Linked DNA regions of Homo sapiens. The protein of the gene in region 2 interacts with the protein of the main gene of each other region in a pairwise test. Each region holds a gene or a part of one and is shown on either strand. Other genes may lie near its edges.

Evidence for each region.
Region 1: the proteins of PRDM4 (region 2) and MSRB3 interact in binary tests that used the Homo sapiens proteins (3 or more experiments, as listed by UniProt).

Annotation. Positions count from the first base shown.
Region 1 is NC_000012.12:65,463,683-65,467,461, reverse strand, and holds the end of MSRB3 (methionine-R-sulfoxide reductase B3 isoform 2 precursor), read right to left. Parts: 3' UTR 555-3,779; downstream 1-554. UniProt on the Homo sapiens protein: Catalyzes the reduction of free and protein-bound methionine sulfoxide to methionine. Isoform 2 is essential for hearing.
Region 2 is NC_000012.12:107,732,328-107,737,148, reverse strand, and holds the end of PRDM4 (PR domain zinc finger protein 4), read left to right. Parts: intron 1-201; exon of another isoform or gene 202-594; intron 595-2,626; coding exon 2,627-2,939; 3' UTR 2,940-4,278; downstream 4,279-4,821. UniProt on the Homo sapiens protein: May function as a transcription factor involved in cell differentiation.

The sequences.
Region 1 (3,779 bases), about 42 Mb from region 2:
CAACTCAACATTTCAACAACAAATAATACAATACCAAAACTTATCTGTAGAGATGGCTTTTATCAGTGAAATCATCTGTAAGCAGTGGAAAGCTCCTAATATACTTCCACAGAGAACAACCCTCAATGATAGTGTAAGTTTCCTGTCAAATTTTTTAACAGAAGCCAAGGCATCAGCGTGGTATCATTCCTGCATTTTTACCCACAGAGTTTTATGGTGGAACTCCCAAATCCATATTTTAAGCAAGAAACATACACAAGCTGCTGAAGATTTTGCTGAGGTGAGGTGAAGGTTGAGTAATTCTGCAAATGTTTCCCTTTCCTCCAGTCTTTCAGATCCCTGGAGGCCTCTCCCAGGGCCTGTGGTGTGGAGAGTTGGACTTGACCCTACTGTAAGAGACCCAACTTCCAAAGACTGCATCAGATGAAAGGCTCTCCATATAGACTACAGACTTGTCAGCTGGTTAAGGAGGCAAACAGAACAGTCTGCTACAAACTCCAGTCCATGTATCTGTGCTGAAAATAAAAGGAGTCTTCAGGAATCAAAGAAGAAAATATTTTTATAAAGAAATTTTATTGCATAATTCTTGTATACAATAAACATAGGAAAAGGGTTTTTAATGAAAATTCATGTCATTTTTCAAAAGTGTTGAACTGTCTGGAGAAAAATTATTACAAAGCTATCTAAGGCAAAAATAATATTTAACCATCTAAACAAAAGATAATCCCCTTTACCATTTGTTTTGTATTTAAAGCAAGACATTTTAAACACAAGTAATACGGAGAAGTTTTCAAATTGCTACGTCATTTGCATTAAGAATTTAAATGCATCTAAGAAGTGAAGAGTTTAAACACATGGGAATGTTCTCTAGTAACAGATATTGCTGCTTTCTTCAGATCCATTCTGCTTGAATGTAAGGCTATACTTTTTGCACACCAACAGAATTCTGCATCTTCTAATGGTACAGTAAGAGCTGGAGTGCAGAGAGGGAAAGTCCCATGCACTTCCTATGTTAAATGGCATAACTCCCACAGATCACATACACCTTGCCATATTGACTCAGTTCATTGCACTCCATATCCTGCAAAAATAAATCTAGTGCTTGACAGCTGACATTATTGCTCACTGACGTTTTAGTAATATATTTCTTTCACATAAGACAGAAATATACTGAAATTTGATACCACTTAAACCCAAAAGCAATCTGGAATTAAACCACATGCATACACCCCACTTTTTTTCAATAGATGTTGCATTTTTCTTAAAGTCGATCCTGGAAAATGTGGTAGAAGAAAAACTGGCTTTCCTTGAAACAAAGACTAAGGATTAGAAAAAGAGGGGCTTTTTTTTGAGTGAAATGTTAAGCCCTACGATATAAATGAAGGAACAATGACAATCCAGTCTCTGTGGAGAGGGAAGAGGCCTCTCACTGATCCTCCTTGTCTACCTCAACACTGTGGCCCGCGTCCCACGGACCCCAGGGGAGGCTATCCTACAGAGCTGGAGCAGCCGAGAGGTGCTGTGTGTGCCTCTGAAGGATGGGCTGGAGGCTGTGGCAAAGCCCTGAGAGACCTATTTCTTTGGCCACCCCAACGTGGAATCCTGGGGTCACTGGGAAATACTAGGGCTTTCTCTGTGAGATTGGGAAAGACTTCTAGGATGGTCTGGACGCTGATGGCTGAGGTCTGGTCTTAAATTTTACACGTCATTTCTAGAGAGACGTGAAGCCTACGAATTCCAGAGTGAACCCAGGGCCTGGGGTGAAATGTCTTGGAACCTGAGGGAACATCTGGATGCTCAGATAGAAACCTCTTATCTGAGCATCCAGATAAGACCAGAGCTCATCTGGAATCAAGTGTACATGACTATAAAGAGTCCACCGGGATGTCAGGCTTCTTAGAGAGGTGCTTGTAGAGAGAGACATGTAGGAATGTGGACATGGCCACACTGACGCTGTTTGTCACAGATTTTCATTCTAATTTCTTGTTGTTTCTTTAAAATTGTCAAATGTCCCTCTTTCTTTTTTTTCTCTTAGTGCTTACAAGGAAAGCTGTCAGTCTTCATAAACTTTCAAAGAGTTACAAAAATACGTATTTTTTAAACTACAATTCAAGATTAGCATCCAAACCTACAAACATGATGTACATTCGTCACACACCATACAACCTTCACACCTGGCTACAGCAATGTTGACTTACATCACCATTGTTTATACTTGTGAAAACTTTATTGTGCACAGTGACATCCATTCCGCCAGACTTAATGTTATAAAGCAGCTGAGCAGAGCTTCTCAAAGTAAAACTAGCCGTGTTGCTACAAAGGGAAATTCTGGCTCTTGGCCCAACTGTTTCCATACCAATCAGCTAAGTCAGCCTCCTCTCTGCTTCTTTCCATTTCAAATGCCTGGGCTTTGGCCTTTGAGGCAATTAGAACCAGATCAGTTTAATTTTACAACACTGATCTCAACTGTATAGCAATATAGTGAATTTGCCCTGAGAGTATCAATACATTTTACAAATATTATGAGTCCCAGTTTATGCATGAAGAAATAGGCACAGAGAGGCTACATGGCTTGTCCTTTGTCACACAGAAGATTATGTTGAGTATGAAACTTGAGCTTCCGTTTTAGCTTTCCATGTGAATGCCCATGTCTCTCCAGAGGTCACCTGGAGCTCTGTGCACAAGGGCCACCCCACTTGGATTCTGTTTGTTACTTGTACTGCCCTGTCAGTTTTTCTGCCCAGCACTGAATTTTTCAGTACCCAAGACTTCATCCTTGATCTTCTCTGCTCTCTCTCATTCCTGCTGCCTTGATGAAGTGTGTTGCCCCTAATATTTTATTTTACACAGTGGAATTTGTGCCCTTCCAGCTGCAGCTGCTTTTAGGTGTGGAGAGAAGGACTTATAAAAAGGCGATGGACAGGCGTTCTTCTTTTTGAATTTTAGACCAAGTGGGGCTCAATATTTTACAGTTGTCTTACATTTGAATGCTGCTTTCTTTTTCTTTTCTTTTTTGACAGGATCTCACTCTGTTCAGGCTGGAGTGCAGTGGTATGAGCTCAGCTCACTGCAACCTCCGCCTCCCAAGTTCAAGCGATTCTCCTGACTGAGCCTCAGGAGTAGCTGGGACTACATGCATGCGCCACCATGCCCAGCTAGTTCTTATATTGTTATTATTATTATTTTTTGAGATGGAGTGTCACATTGTCATGTAGGCTGGAGTGCAGTGGCATGATCTCGGCTAACTGCAAGCTCCGCCTTCCGGGTTCACGCCATTCTCCTGCCTCAGCCTCCTGAGTAGCTGGGACTACAGGTGCCCACCACCACGCCTGGCTAATTTTTCGTATTTTTAGTAGAGACGGGGTTTCACCATGTTAGCCAGGATGGTCTCCATCTCCTGACCTCGTGATCCACCCGCCTTGGCCTCCCAAAGTGCTGGGATCACAGGCGTGAGCCATTGCACTGGGCCTCCAATGCTTTCGATGGAAAATAAAATAAAATAAAGGCCTAACAGTGTGGTAATGTTTACTTCTCTGCCACAACACTCAGTATGCCCCTTTGGATCTGGCAACAATTTAACATAAGGAAAGACTTTAGACCTTCACACCCTTTCAGTGAGAAAAAAAAAAATGACCTTAGCTCAAACTTTCCACAAAGCTGAACAGTCTCATTAAAACATCACTCCAACCTTATCTTAGGTGGGTCTGTGCAAAGGCCTCAAGGCCATGTGTCTTGCAGGTCTCCATGCCCTGCACTGCCCAGCTCTGGTCTCTACACTG
Region 2 (4,821 bases):
TTGCCCTTCCTGTAAGAAAGAGGAAGTGAGCAGAAGAACAGTGATGTTTACTCCCCAGGTCATCTTGTCTCATGGCTTTAGATACCGTCATATGATTTATGTCTCCACCCTCATACACCTCACCATCACTCAGCGGCTCTGATGCTGGATGTTCGCTAGGCAACTTAAATCTTATGTGTCCAAAACTCAACCCAGTATTACCCCATGAATTTGATTTCCTCCAGTGCTGAGCAGCTCATTAAATGGCACCACCATTATTCACCTCAATGGTCAAGCCAAACACCTTGAAGTAATTCTCAACTCAGTTTTTCCTTCCTTCCTTCATTCAACTAACACCTTGTCCAGACCACCAGCTTTTCTTCTATGGATGGCTTCAGTAGCCTCCCAGTTGATCTCCCTGCCACTACTTGCTGTTTCTCCTCATCTACTCCGCAACACAGATGAACACACATACACACAGTTTTCTGTCCGCAGTGCCAGAGCAATCCATTTCAAATATAAGTCAGATTGTGCCTGTCTCCACTCATACATCTCTGGTGGCTTTCCATCGTATTTGTGTTAAAAGCTTTTTACAGCAGTCAGAAGGCCCTTTATGATGTAATAGTACTTGGCTACCTCTCCCTTCACCTTTTCTTACTTTTCATATTCTGCTTTGGCCACTCTGACCCTCCCCTTGCTACTCCTTGAGCATACTAAGCACATCCAGTCTCAGGGCCTCTGCCTTAGAAACTTCTCCCTCCAGATGCCTGCATGTCTTCTTCCCTCCATTCAGGTTTCTGCTCAAATGTTATCTCCTCAGGAGGGCCTTCCTTGACTATCTTATCTAAAATAGGACCCCTTCACTTTTACCTGGCTTCGTGTGTTTTCGTAGTCTTTATTGCTATATGATACCACGTTACACATTTGTTTATGCTATAATCTGTCCACTTAGAATGTAAGCTTCATGAAAGCAGGGACTTAGTTTACCCACATCCTATAGCCCTAGCATCTAGAACAGTGCCTGGCATAATTAGACACAGTAAATATGTGTTGAATAAACATCTAAAAACCATCAGAGTAGAAGATGAAAAGTCAGACTTTTGGTAGGGGTTTTGTTGTGGCCTTGGGCAAGTTCCTTAGTAGTTTTTATGCACATGATGTTTCCCATCTGCAGAATTAAGAGGTTGGATTAGATTGGTGGTTTTAAAACTGCTCCAGGGAATTCTAAGGGTTCTTCAGTGCCATCTGTTGCTAGAAGAGGATGAGAGAAATGCTAAGGAAGCCAGGCTTCAGAACGCCCGACTGCACCCTCTCACTCCTTCCAGGATTTTATTAATAACCTGCTTTAACTGTTTCATATTGGGCTTTCATAAAGACATGGGGTTCAGCTACTCAAAAAAAAAAAAAAAGCTAAAAAATTCCTGGTCTGTGTGATCTCTAAGGTTCTTTTCAGCTCTGAAATGTCTAGGCCAGGGTTACTCAAACCTTGACATTATTGACATTTTGACCGGGTTAATTTTTTGTTGTGGGGCTGCCCTGTGCATTGTAGAATGGTTAGCAGCATCCTTGGCCTTTTCCTACTAGATACTAATTATACCACCCCTCCCCAGTATAACAATCAGAAAGGACTCCAGACATTGCCAAATGTCCCCATAGAGGCAGTCGCCCCTACTTGAGAACCACTAGTCTAAGAAAAGGACAGAAAAATGGTAATTCCATAAAAGTGGCATCCAGGGAATACAAATAACGGTGTAATGAGATACCATTATGTACTGGCTAATTGGCAGACATTTTCAAATTTGAGTCTTCCAGTTGAGAATATGGGACAACCAGAACCGTCAATGATGGATGTGTATATTGAAACAACTACATTGGAAAACCGTTTGTCATTATCTTGTAAAGTTGAAGATGTGCATATCCTTTGATTTAGCTATATAGTTCTTGGGTATGTGCCCTAGAGAAACATGTATTGCAGAGCACCATACAAGTATAAAAATGTTCAAATGCCAGGTACAGTGGCATGCACCTGTAGTCCCAGGTACTTGGGAGGCTGAGGCGGACAGATCACTTGAGCCCAGGAGTTCAAGGCTGTAGTGCATGATGATCACACCTGTGAATAGCCATTGCACTCCAGTCTGGGCAACATGGTGGGACCCTGTCTCTAAAAAATAATAATAAAAATTTAAAAAAATTTAAAAACGTTCTAGCACTTTTGCTTGTGATAATAAAAAACTGGAAACCACCAAAACATTCATTAGCTAGAGACAAATCCAGTACCATAGATAAGTTGTGGTGTATTTGTATATTTGTAAATAGTATACAGCAGTGGAAGGGAACAAACAACTGATACAGCAGCTTGAATGAATTTTATGAGCATCATACTGAGAGAATGCAGCAAGACAAAAGAAATACATATAGAATTTACATAGAATTTGAGAATTTACATAGTATTCTAAAACAGGAAAAATGAGCCTACACTGTTTTAAACTATACATGTTTTATGAGTCTTCTGTATATCACCTATGCAAAAGCCTGATTCAGAAGGATAGAGCTGCTCTGACAAAGGCCTGCGGCTATGAAGAATAAGTGTTGCCTCAGTTGTTATTTGTAACCCCAAATCAAATGTTTTTTCTTGTGTTCCTCTTAGAGAACGCCAGATCAAGTGTCCCAAGTGTGATAAGCTGTTCTTGAGAACAAATCACTTAAAGAAGCATCTCAATTCTCATGAAGGAAAACGGGATTATGTCTGTGAAAAATGTACAAAGGCTTATCTAACCAAATACCATCTCACCCGCCACCTGAAAACCTGCAAAGGGCCCACCTCCAGTTCGTCAGCACCAGAGGAGGAAGAAGAGGATGACTCAGAAGAGGAAGATCTAGCAGACTCTGTGGGGACAGAAGACTGTAGGATTAACAGTGCTGTGTATTCAGCGGATGAGTCTCTTTCTGCACATAAATAAAAGGAAAAGAAACAAGCAATTTTGGATGAAAATGCAAATGGAAAAATACACATAACCAGTTATCTACTATAATGGTTTTTATATAAAATGGTTCCTGATTTATTTTCAGCCAGTAATCAAAACAGACTGGGAATGAATAAAGCACTTACAGAAGAGTATCCTAATGAAAACACTTTAAAACAGATTGGGAAAACTGAGCATGTGTCCTGTTTTAAGTGGTGGACTGGGAGGGAAGTGTCAACTTCTGAGGTCTTTATTTACATGATAATCTGGGAGATGCATTTATGCCTGAATCAAAGCTGCCTTCTGCTCAAACAAATCAGATTTATTTCACATTCTTCCATTATTCCATTTTCCTGCTGGTCCTGTGACTTGGTAACATTCTAAACGGTCCTTGCCCCATAGCCATCCTGATTGCTGATAGTGTTTTATGCAGACTCTTGTGACTTATACTCACCACAGAATGGATTGGGACACAGCAGCATAAGTGTGCTACTTGGCAGCTAGTAAGTTTAAAGCAGGACCTGCCTTAACTGCTCCTGGCCACTTGGAAGTTTAGGGTAGATCTTGTTTTCCAAAGTTTCGGCAGGTGCCTGGAGGGCAAATAAAAAAGCAGCAGTCAGTCAGTAGTCAGTGATGGAGAGAACAAGAGGAGAGATGCCTGGCCTCTGCCCAAGAAATTAGCTTTGATGGAAGCCTGAGCAAGTCACCTGGTTATTGTAACGTGGAGATCTTTGTAGGTTTAGACATGGCTCCCTGTCTCCAGTAAACATCCAGCCATTCAGACAAAGGGGGCCTGGAGATACAGAGAGCCCAAATAATGCCTGCTGGATTGTCTCCTGATGAGTACATGTGGACTCACCTGAGGAAGGGAAGGAAGGGAATAATCTTTTATGTTTCATTTACCTTATGAAAAGTGTTAAAACATTGCCAACTCAAAATAACATTATTTAATGCATGTGCAAAGTTAGGTCTTCCCAGTTGTCTCAGTGCTGAGGAACCTCATCAGAGAAGCATGGAAGATGCCAAAGGATTTTTGGAAGGTAAAGAAGGCTGAATAGTGACCACATGGGCCTGTTTTCAGGGTCCCAGCTTAGTTAAGTCACCCATGCACCTGGTCATTGTGTCTCCCATGCACATCCAGCGTTTCTCAGAAGCAGACCCACCCTTAAGTTGACAGGATTGATGGAACATGCTCTCCTGCTCAAGGCACAACCTCTGGGCTGGAGTAGAGGACTCTGGTGGGAAGGTTTTGCTGCTAATGTATTTATGGAATGAATGTATTTCATTCAAATCTGTATTCCTCTAGGAAGGATTAAAATTAAACTTTTTTAAAATACAGGATTCCTCTGGTAGTCTCATTTCATGGAGGAAGGAGATGAGTGAGTCTTCTAGGGAAAGTCAAGTACAATTTGAATCTTTCTGAGGTTAGAAGAAGAGAGCATTTCTAGAGTATTTTAGCTTTTGAGATCATATTCTTATTGTTTCTGCTGTTAGTACTTAAGACAAACTGCTTCCTGTGCTTCCAACCCTCTTCTGCCCTGTTCCTGCCTAAGGTATGCCTTTACTCTGTTACCTCCTTGGAGAAATGTGGCAGGTCTGCAGTGGAGGGTTGGGGGATGTGTTGCGGATGGTTAGGGTTGGCTGCTGACACTGGGTCGTGACGCCTCCCTCAGGGCAGCTCTGGTTCCTAGGGCAGCTTCAAACTCAGCATTTTGCCAAAGGCATCCAGCTGGCTGGTTCCCCCATACCCAGGAAACCACTGGTACTGGGACTCTAAGCTCCCTTTCTTCCTTTATCTCAGTAGCACACACTGGGTTCACTTCCTTCATTCCCAAGACTGAAATGATGCCCAAGATAGTTACGCCTAGTGTCAGAGGAA